Linked DNA regions of Homo sapiens. The protein of the gene in region 2 purifies or fractionates together with the protein of the main gene of each other region. This does not show direct contact. Each region holds a gene or a part of one and is shown on either strand. Other genes may lie near its edges. The genes, in order: EDEM3, LY9 and GUSB.

Region 1 (3,652 bases), about 24 Mb from region 2:
TGTAATCCCAGCTACTCAGGAGGCTGAGGCAGGAGAATCACTTGAACCTGGGAGGTGGTGGCTGCAGTGAGCTGAGATAGTGCCGCTATACTCCACAGCCTGGGCGACAGAGCACAACTCCGTCTCAAAAAAAAAAACAAAAAACAAAAAACAAAAAAAACATTAAGGGAATGACTGAGGTCTTGAGAAATAAATTTGAAACTGTGTTTTTAATGTTGAAATGTATCCAAAAAAAATCATATCCTAAAAACATTAAGAACTCAAAATGTGCTCTCTCCAAATTTACAATATAAAAGAGAACGAGGACTGTCAAATATAAAACATGTTTTAAAACTAAAAATGCATAAATTACATATATTTAGATGTTCATAGATAACAATGATGTTAGTGTATGAAGATATTTGGTTAATATATGATAAAAAATGGATTCACAGAATCAGTTGAAAAATATTTTAAGCAGAACTAAAGCTAGTCCTCTGCCAAACTTTCCCAACTACATTTTATACGTTGTAATCATAGAAGAAAATCTGCTGACATATTTTAAAATGTAAAAACAAGGTTATAAGGGATAAGTTTCAGGATAATATGCTTAAACTCTTTTCAAATTACAATTTATGTGCAAAATTTTTTTTGAATTCCAGAATTTGCTATTTCATCTACGTTGTTGCACAACAGATCTCCAGAACTTTTCATCTTGTAAAACTGAAACTGCTATTTAATCTTAAGTGAGCCCTAAAACATTTTTAAATAATATGAATCAGCAAACTAAAAAGCAAAATATATTCAGTGCAGAGTCCATGAGGATACAATTAGGACAGAGGCTAAGTAACAATTTCTCTTTTAAGCAATGGTTTTCTTCAGTGTATAAATATTGTAAACATTTTTTTAAATTAAGAGAATAATCTCCCTTAAGACCAGAGATAACATCTTCATGTATATATCCACAATATCTAGCTATATAAAGCACTCAATGATAATTGTTGATGGCACCCAAGGAAGCTGTTTAAATAATGAAGTTTCATAATCTAATTTCAATTTATTCTTATCTGTTCAATAAACTGGTTCCCTAAAAACCACTACCAGAAAGACTATTTTTGCCCTGTTTTTTAAAAACTTCCTTTTAAAAAATGTAATTGTATTGTAGGTTTCAAAATTCCCAGTTGACTGTGCTCACATAATAATCAACTCACATAAATGGTAGGTAAAGATAAGCTTCCTACTTACCATATAGTTACCATAAGCATGATCAAACATTTCCAGTACTTGATTCCTAATTTTAAAAGAGCAGAAATGGAAAAAAAAAAAAAAAAAGGTAAGTATATTCTATTTATTATCTTTCAAAAAGTTAATTCTTCCTCATAAAAAATATACCAATAAAAACAAAAGAAAAATTTAGGTAGAAAGGGACATAAACAGAATCAGAAACTACAACAGCTAGCAGACAAGCTTTCATGAACTCACCACACAGAGCTGAGCCAAACTTTAATGATTACTAGTAATTTATGTACAATTCATCTTATAATTTTTCCTAAGAAAACTGATGAATGATAGATGCCATCATCAGAGAAGGAAATCTGATGCAGAAAAACAATGACCTCTTAACACAATTATTTAACGTATCTGTCTTGAAGCGGGGGTTTTGCTGGACAGCCCTTTAAAAAAACCATTATTATTGCCATTTATTGCTTCCCCTATATGTTCTACTAAGAGAGAGGTACACAGGTGTGTAGTGACATGAAATAACAACGCTTTATGAAGCCTCTGCCTTTGCACTTACATTGAATAAACCACTAATGCCTAGTTTAAGTACATATTTATTAATGTTTGTCATATTTTCAAAAGATACTTTTTATGATGTGCTCTACTCTAAAAAAACTGTCAAAAATCAAATAAATAGTATTCACTTCCAAAATGAGAAAACTAATGCTCAAAAAGAGAGTTGTGTGTTTTGGCGAATTCTGTTTCACAAAATCTCCGTAACCACTGTTTAAAATGGAGATGTCTGATCACTACACCAGAATTTTACTAAATCAAAACCTGTAAGGTTGCGACTGAGGAAGCAGCCTTTCAATTAAGCACTCTCAAGTTCAGGGACTTGAGGACTACAGGAAAAAGTACAAGTTAATTGTATGACCAGACAAGGCCAAATAATTAGCAAAGGAAAACACAGCTTAACAATTTTTTATTAACTTTTTCTTTTTTTTTTGAGACAGGGTCTCACTCTGTCACACCTAGGCTAGAGTGCAGTGGCACGATCTCAGCTCACTGCAACCTTCACCTCCCAGGTTCAAGCGATTCTCCTGCCTCAGCCTCCCGAGTAGCTGGGATTACAGGCGTCTGCCACCATGCCTGGCTAATTTTTGCATTTTCAGTAGAGACAGGGTTTTACCACGTTGGCCAGGCTGGTCTCGAACTCCTGACCTCATGTGATCCACCCGCCTCAGCCTCCCAAAGTGCTGGGATTACAGGTGTGAGTTACCACGCCCGGCCTATTAACTTTTCTTTTACCAAAGTTCCAATCACTGATGGCAAGAATTGAAAAAAGTGTTAAAGAAATTGCTGACTATATTTTTATTTGCCTCCTGTTATACTGCAATTGTCATTTTTAAAACTATAATCACAGATTATGAAATACTGGTAATAATAGAGCTAGCAAACAGAAAAGACCTCAGTTCCAGATCCTGACTATGAACACCAACAAAATCAAGTACACTCAAACTTGTGAACGAATTAAGTCCTGACAACATATGAATAATAACCACTTAAAAACATTTCATTATTTAAAAAAAGACCTTACCACCACTTTGCTAAAGCACTAATTCTTTGTAAGTTTACATATATATATATGTTTATATATATATAATTTTTATATTTGTGGTTTACAGCTCTAGACTCTTATCCTGTCCTAAGCAGAAAAAAAAAAGTTTAAAATGTCCCTTTCAGGAACTCATATCAATGAATGGAAGATGGAAGTCCTCTTTTTTTTCCTTCCCTGAAATGGAATACGAGATTATTACCAAGAAGTAGAAATTCCTATAATTGGCAATGGTAGTGCCTAGACATGTATATTACAAATGACATAAGCTTTAACTTGCTAACTCAACTTTACAAGCATTCAATTTTCAAGACTGTAAGTAAATCATGATTGCATACAAGGAGAATACACTATTTTCCAATCCTTACATTTATGCAGCATATGATGAGCAAATTTTAGAACACATATTTCAAAGTGGAGCTATTTAATATCATTGCTCTTACACATAGAAGCCTAACAAAGTCACATTTAAATACAGAATGGTATAATAATTACTATACTGAACAGAAAAAAAAATTTCCATAATGTTTTATCTATTCAAAAACTGGATTAAAATGTATTGGAAATCAGACCCAGTTCAAAAATTACACCACTCTTCAGTAATTTCTGTAAGTCGGCTTTTTCTCTTTTTTTGAGACAGAGTTTTGCTCTTGTTGCCCGGGCTGGAGTGCAATGGCACGATCTCTGCTCGCTGCAACCTTCGCCTCCAGGTTCAAGCGATTCTTCCTGCCTCAGCCTCCCGAGTAGCTGGGATTAAGGGCATGCGCCACCACACCTGGCTAATTTTGTGTTTTTAGTAGAGAAGGGGTTTCTCCATGTTGGTCAGGCTGGTCTCGA
Region 2 (3,652 bases):
ATGGGAGTGGGGGAGTAAAGGCAGGCATCTCAGCTCCCCACACTAAAACCTGTCAGAGCAGTTCCATTTCCCACGATGCTCTTAGGTAATAGGTTGTACAGTCTCCTGAAGTTTAATTTTAATTAAGTTTTAAATTTTTTTCTACCACAGATGTACTGTTCCATCTGGCCTTTGTTTCTCTGTTCTCAGAATGGAGACAATAACTCCATCCTCATTGTAGTCCACATTCAAATGGTGAATGGCTAATGCCCAAGGAACCCTAGAGACCCTGGGGGACAGACTGCCTCTCCTAGCTCTGGTGACCATCTCTAAGGAGTCTATCTTGGCTTTTGTTTCTATGCTACCTTCCTTTTCAAACTTCAGTAGGCATATGAATCACTTATGGATCTTGTTAAAATACAGGTTTGGAATCAGTATTCTGGGGTGATGCCCAAGATTCCCTCCCTCCCTCCCTCCCTCCCTCCCTTCCTTCCTTCCTTCCTTTCTTTCTCTCTCTTTCTTTCTCTTTCTGTTTTTTTTTTTTTTTTTTGAGACAGAGTCTTGCCCTGTTGCCCAGACTGTAGTGCAGTGGCGTGATCTAGGCTGACTGCAACCTCCACCTCCCAGGTTAAATAGATTCTCATGCCTCAGCCTCCCGAGTAGCTGGGATTACAGGCGTGCACCACCATGCCCAGATAATTTTTTCTATTTTTAGTAGAGACAGGGTTTCACTTTGTTGGCCAGGCTGGTCTTGAACTCCTGGCCTCAAGTGATCTACCTGCCTCAGCCTCCCGAAGTGCTGGGATTACAGGTGTGAGCCACGGCACCTGGTCAGATTTTGCATTTCTAACAAGTTTCCTGGGTGATGCCCACACTGCTGGCCAGCAGACCACACTTTGAGCAGCAAGACTTTAGAACTTCCATTTGGACCAGATACCCCATAGCCTGTGTCATGGGTGATGTTACCTGGTGTATCCGCTGGGGCCTCAGCTTGGCTGGAACAGAAGGCTGGGACTGAACCTGAGAAACAAAGTTAGAGAAGGTTTATCAAGAGGGCTGTGAGGTGAGAGGTGTCTTTTATTCTGTGAGAGTCAAATGAGAAGGGGAGAGACTTCTGGGACATAGACAGGGAAAAGGCTTCAGGAAGGAGGATGAACCCTGATGAGAAGCCAGGCCTATGTGAAGGGGTGGCCAGAGTCTAGGGCTACTTTCTGCAGAGGTGGAGGCTCTGGAGCTTCCTGCCATCCCTCCAGAAGAGAGAGCTCCTCTGCCATAGCCACTGATCAGAGTAGTTTGCCTGCAATTCAGTAATTCTTCCAGGGACCCCATGTGTTCTACCCATTCTGCTCTTTTTGGCTACTACTTCATTTCCACTCCAATACTGGGATTCTAGAGGAGCTGCCAATCATAATAGTGTATCTTCTTGGCTATAGAAATTGGTCCAAGCAGCAGCCACATGACCTTAACTTGGGCCAATCAGAGCTATTTCTGACATTCTTTAAATTGGAGTTAGAGGGAAGCACATTTTCTTCCCTGTCTGGTGTCGGAGCTGTTAGTATGTGTGGGTCTGGAGCTGCCAGCTGTTGTGTTGTGGTACACTCCTCCCCTCGCTCCCACCCCTTCCCTCAGCGGGCTGCAGTAGGAAGAGTTAAGCTGACTCAAAATACACAGTAGAGATGAAAGGTGGAGAGCTCTGATGACTTTTGAGCCTCTGGTGACATTTCTCCATTATGCCAGCTCTATCCCTGCCTTCCCCACAGATTGATTATTTAAGTGAAAAAATAATAAATCACTCTCCCTGCTCCCACATGCCTTTTTTTTTCTGTCTAAGCCAGTTTGAACTGGGCTTCTATTATTTGTGAGTAAAGAGTCCCAACTGACACCCCTCCCCCATTGCTCTGAGAAGAAATAAGATGCTGGCAGGGAGGGGTAGCACGGGATTGTGTGAGGGCAGAGAAGCCTCCACAAGTCCCAGGGAAATGGCCTAGCACTGGCGGACAACATTGATCTCGGAAACTCACACCGTCCTTTTCGCTTCCAAATGCACCAGCTGAAGATCCCAACGCACAGAAGGCAAACCATCAGGAACAACCCAATCCAAAGCTTTGTGTTTCTCTCAGGTCCTTTGAGGAGGAAATGAGTGATGTTAATTCAAATAATGACAAGACACACTGGAGCAAACAATGCACAGAACATGATGGCCATCCTACCTGCCCCTTAAAATCCATGACGTTGTGGAAAGTCTTTCTTTTCATTCATTCTACAACCATTTTTCGAGCAAGCATTACTCTAGGCAAGAGGTTATAGCAGTACCTGAGGCAGACAGTCCCTGGGTAGAGAGGTTTACGGCTTGCCCAGTGTCACAGTGTTTCAAGTGTCTGACCTGAGGTTCGAGTGCAGATCCTACAGCGCCCTTAATCGCCACATTACACTGCCCCGCTGTAAATGATATGAGGGGAGTTCCAGATTCCTGTTAAGCTGGACTCTAGATCTGTCTGCCAGACACAATCTGACCCAACATTGTCAGATCCTGGGTAGACCGTACCTTTTTTCTGCTTCCTTCTACGGAAGAGCAGAAGATAGAGCTCAGGGTTCGAAACCAGCTTTTATGGTGTGACCTTGGATAAGTCCCTTATCTTTTCTGAGCCTCAGTTTCTTTATCCATATAAAGGGGAAAAACGAGAATATCTACTCTGTAGGATTGTTGCGAAGATTGTGCAAAAATGCCTGAAGGCCTAGAATAGTACTTAGCATTTATTAAGGGCCACTGGGGCTTCTTTTCTAGCTCCCACTCACGCAGCCTTTGTTCCTGTGTGGTCCACATCCCTTTCCATATCAGCTTCCTATTGGCTTTTCTCCACAAGCCTGTAACTCTGTGCTGTTCAATATGGTAGCCACAAGCTATGCATAAGCCCTTGAAGTGTGGCTAGTATTACTGAGACACCAAATTGCTTCTTTTATTTAGTTTTAGTTTAAATTTAAAAATGGCTACTCAATTCCTTCTTGAAAAACTGATAAATATGCTTGGAATAACTTGGGTGCATAAATCTATTTTTTCAACTGTAAATTTTACGAAGTCTGAATATAGATTAAACACTTTCAGTGAAAATTTAGCATCGGAATCGAGACGTGCTCTAAGTGTAAAATACATACTGGCTCTCAAAGACTTAGTACAAAATAAAATGTAGTGTCTAATGAATTTTTTTGTATTGAATACACGTTGAATAATGATATTTTGGATATATTCAGTTAAATAAAACATATTATTAAAATAACTTTATTTCTTCTTGCTTTTTCTAACGTGGCTATTAGAACATTAAAATCACATGCGTGACTCTCATATATCTGTGGAAGCATGCCACTCTAAAGGGCTCTCACCCACAGCCTCTTACTGCACTTCATAAAGAATCAGTCAGGATGCAAACTCTTGGAGGCCCCAAGGTCCTGTGACCTGAGTAAATAGAGATGGAGAGAAACCTGAACAGATGTTCTCAGAAAGAAACTGGTGGGAACTCCTGCTGACAGGGTTGCTGGCTGTGCATGTGAGGTTGGGGTGATTTTCACTGCTTCTCCATGAGACATTGAGGTGTGATTCCCCTTGGGACACAACAGCTTCCTTCTGCAGCGGGGTCCATGTGTACATGACAGTGTTTCCCCCGTCCTCCACGGAGCA
Region 3 (3,652 bases), on a different chromosome or scaffold from region 2:
CTCAGCTCACTGCAACCTCTGCCTCCCACCATCAGGTGCTTCTCATGCCTCAGTCTCCCGAGTAGCTAGGATTACAGGCGTGCGCCACCACGCCCAGCTAATTTTTTGTATTTTTGGTAGAAATGAAGTTTCACCAGTTGGCTGGGCTGGTCTTGAACTCCTGATCTCAAGTAATCTGCCTGCCTCGGCCTCCCAAAGTGCTGGGATGATAGGTGTAAGCCACCATGCCCGGCTGTCACAGAGGATCTTGAGGGAGCTTTCACAAGGCAGCACTGTGGACTGCAGAGGGCCAGAAAAGTCACTCCAAGGAGCAGGGCGGTGACGACCGAGTAGGACCACCCCAAGCTTCAGCATAGCGGTGCTTACAGCTGAGCAGCAGGGGCTTCTGTGTCCAACTGGCTAGTTTCTAATGCGTCCTGAACACATTTCTTTCTAGTAAAAATGCTGGCCGGGTGTGGTGGCTCACGCCTGTAATCCCAGCACGTTGGGAGGCCAAAGTGGGCAGATCACCTGAGATCAGCAGTTTGAGACCAGCCTGGCTAACATGGCAAAACCCCATCTCTACTAAAAAATACAAAAATTAGCTGGGTGTGGTGGCATGCACCTGTAATCCCAGCTACTCAGGAGGCCGAGGCAGAATTGCTTGAACCTGGGAGGACGAGGTTGCAGCGAGCTGAGATTGCACCATTTCACTCAAGCCTGGGCAACAGAGCAAGATTCCATCTCAAAATAAATAAATAAATAAATAAAGAATGCTAATGTCAGCCAGGCACTGCAACTCATGCCTGTAATCACAGCACTTTGGGAGGCCAAGGCAGGAGATCACTTGAGCTCAAGACTTTGAGACCAGCCTGGGCAACATAGAGAGATGCCACCTCTACAAAAAGATATAAAATTAGCTAGGCGCAGTGGTGAAAACCTGGAGTCCCAGCTACTCGGGAGGCTGAGGCAGGAGGATCACTTGGGCTCAGGAATTCAAGGCTGCAGTGAGCTGTGATTGCACCACTGCACTCCAGCCAGGGCAAGAGAGTAAGACCTTGCCTCTACAAAAGAAAAAGAAAAACTCAAGTTCCAACCCTGGACGTACTAAATCAGGACCTCAGAATGCAGAGATCTGGCATTTCATAAAAACTTCCCCTAGAGATTCTCATCAGCCAGGTGTGGGCCAGATGAACTCTAAGCTCCCTTAAATCTTTGATGTTTTATGAGTCTATTAAATCGAAGTGCAAAAAATGCTGAGTCCAAACTGAGCAAACAAATCCCATCTCCCTATGCCCAGCCTCCTTGGATTGAGAAAGCCACACTGCCTGGCGAGTAAGCAGGGGGAGAATTCTCATTAACCCAAAGACCATCTGTGAAAACAGACTGGCTGCGGCCGGGGTGTGGTGGCCCACACCTGTAACCCCAGCCCTTTGGGAGGCCAAGGCAGGAGGATTGCTTGAGCCCAGGAGTTGGAGACCAGCCTGGGCAACATGGCAAGACCCTGTCTCTATCTTTTTAAGTAAAAAAGAAAATGAAATAAAACCCAGACTGGCAGCGCATGGTTCTTCCTGGCTGTTCCCATGACCAGGCTTCAGGACAAGCCCAGGCAAAGGCAGGGAGAAGTGGGGTGGGGACCCCCAGGCTCACCCCCTTGTCTGCTGCATAGTTAGAGTTGCTCACAAAGGTCACAGGCCGGGAGGGGTCCAAGGATTTGGTGTGAGCGATCACCATCCTGTCCACAAAAGGCAGAAGAAACAGGTTCCATCAGTCCAGGAATGGCTCAGACACCCTCCCATCCTCTCTGTCCCATCTTCCACCGCCAGAACACAACACGGGGCCAGGCACGATGGTTCACACCTGTAATCCCAGCACTTTGGGAGGCCGAGGTGGGTGGATCACTTGAGGTCAGGAGTTCAAGATCAGCCTGGCCAACATGGTGAAACCCCAACTCTATCTACTACAAATACAAAAATTAGCGGCCAGGCGCAGTGGCTCACGCCTGTAATCCCAGCACTTTGGGAGGCCGAGGCGGGCAGATCACAAGGTCAGGAGATCGATACCATCCTAACACGGTGAAACCCCGTCTCTACTAAAAATACAAAAAATTAGCCGGGCGTGGTGGCCGGCGCCTATAGTCTGAGCTACTCAGGAGGCTGAGGCAGAAGAATGGCGTGAACCCAGAAGGAGGAGTCTGCAGTGGGCCAAGATCATGCCACTGCACTCCAGCCTGGTCCACAGAGCAAGACCCTGTCTCAAAACAAACAAACAAAAACAAAGGGGAAAAAAAAAAAAGCATGGAGCCGCTGCTTTCTTCCCTAACTTGAGATGTATTTTACATAAGGGCATATGATCCTCTAGTCCTAGACCGAGCTCTCTAACATCACTCCTTCTACCCCCATCTCCGAATCCTATACCCCCAGAGGAGCAGCCACTCTTCCAGGTACACAGAGCTGAGGTCACTAGGCTGGACACTGGCAAAAATGAGGTTGACGCCCTGAAACAGCTCTTGAACACAGGAGGTGGATGGATGCAGATTTGGGAGGGATATTTATTAATGCATCAAGCAAACGGAGTGCAGGCTGGGAGGCAGGCATGGGGCTAGGTGCGAGGTGCTCAGCAGTGACTCAAATCTAAGTCCACAGGTCCTGGGCAGTGGGAGTGGAGACGCATGCAGAGAAATGGTGCAAGTGCCGGGCAAGGCGGCTCACGCCTAGAATCCCAGCACTTTGGGAGTTTTACCAGAGACCAGGAGTTCAAGACCAGCCTGGGCAACATAGCAAGACCTTGTTTCTACAACAAATTTAAAAATTAGGGGCGGGCATGGTGGCTCACGCCTGTAATCCCAACACTTTGGGAGGCCGAGGCGGGTGGATCATGAGGTCAAGAGTTTGAGACCAGCCTGGTCAACATGGTAAAAGTCTATCTCTACAAAAAAATACAAAAAAAACCTAGCTGGGCATGGTGGCATGCGCCTGGAATCCCAGCTACTCATGAGGCTGAGGCAGAAGAATTGCCTGAACCCAGGAGGTAGAGGTTGTAGTGAGCCAAAATTGCACCAGTGCTCTCCAGCCTGGGCAACAAGCAAGACTCCATCTTGCGGAAAAAAAAAAAAAAATTTAAACTTAGCCTGACATGGCCGCACACACCTGTGGCCCCAGCTATTTGGGAGGCTGAGGCAGGCAGATAACCTGAGGTTGGGAGTTCGAGACCAGCCTGACCAACACGGAGAAACCCCATATCTACTAAAAATACAAATTAGCTGGGCGTGGTGGCGCATGCCTGTAATCCCAGCTACTCGGGAGGCTGAGGCGGGAGAATCACTTGAACCCAGGAGGCAGAGGTTGTGGTGAGCCGAGATTGTGCCATTGCACTCCAGCCTGGGCAACAAGTGCAAAACTCCATCTCAAAAAATAAATAAATAAATAAGAAGAAATGGCCCTTAGAAGGGAAGAAAAACCCAACAGAGGGACCCGTCTGTGCTCAGAGCTCCTGGCACCTGCCCGAGGCCTCCACAGTACAGACTGTTTTTGTTTTTGTTTTTTTGAGAGACAGAATCTCACTCTGTAGCCCAGGCTGGAGTGCAATGACATGATCTTGGCTCACTGCAACCTCCACCTCCTGGGCTCAAGCAATTCTCCTGCCTCAGCCTCCCAAGTAGCTGGGATTACAG

Evidence for each region.
Region 1: the proteins of LY9 (region 2) and EDEM3 purify together in Homo sapiens (affinity purification with mass spectrometry; one large-scale study listed by BioGRID and IntAct). This does not show direct contact.
Region 3: the proteins of LY9 (region 2) and GUSB purify together in Homo sapiens (affinity purification with mass spectrometry; one large-scale study listed by BioGRID and IntAct). This does not show direct contact.

Annotation. Positions count from the first base shown.
Region 1 is NC_000001.11:184,748,323-184,751,974, forward strand, and holds part of EDEM3 (ER degradation-enhancing alpha-mannosidase-like protein 3 isoform 2 precursor), read right to left. Parts: intron 1,271-3,652; coding exon 1,225-1,270; intron 1-1,224. UniProt on the Homo sapiens protein: Involved in endoplasmic reticulum-associated degradation (ERAD). Accelerates the glycoprotein ERAD by proteasomes, by catalyzing mannose trimming from Man8GlcNAc2 to Man7GlcNAc2 in the N-glycans.
Region 2 is NC_000001.11:160,816,668-160,820,319, reverse strand, and holds part of LY9 (T-lymphocyte surface antigen Ly-9 isoform a precursor), read right to left. Parts: coding exon 3,457-3,652; intron 2,103-3,456; coding exon 2,001-2,102; intron 1,000-2,000; coding exon 946-999; intron 1-945. UniProt on the Homo sapiens protein: Self-ligand receptor of the signaling lymphocytic activation molecule (SLAM) family.
Region 3 is NC_000007.14:65,968,653-65,972,304, forward strand, and holds part of GUSB (beta-glucuronidase isoform 1 precursor), read right to left. Parts: intron 1,715-3,652; coding exon 1,630-1,714; intron 1-1,629. UniProt on the Homo sapiens protein: Plays an important role in the degradation of dermatan and keratan sulfates.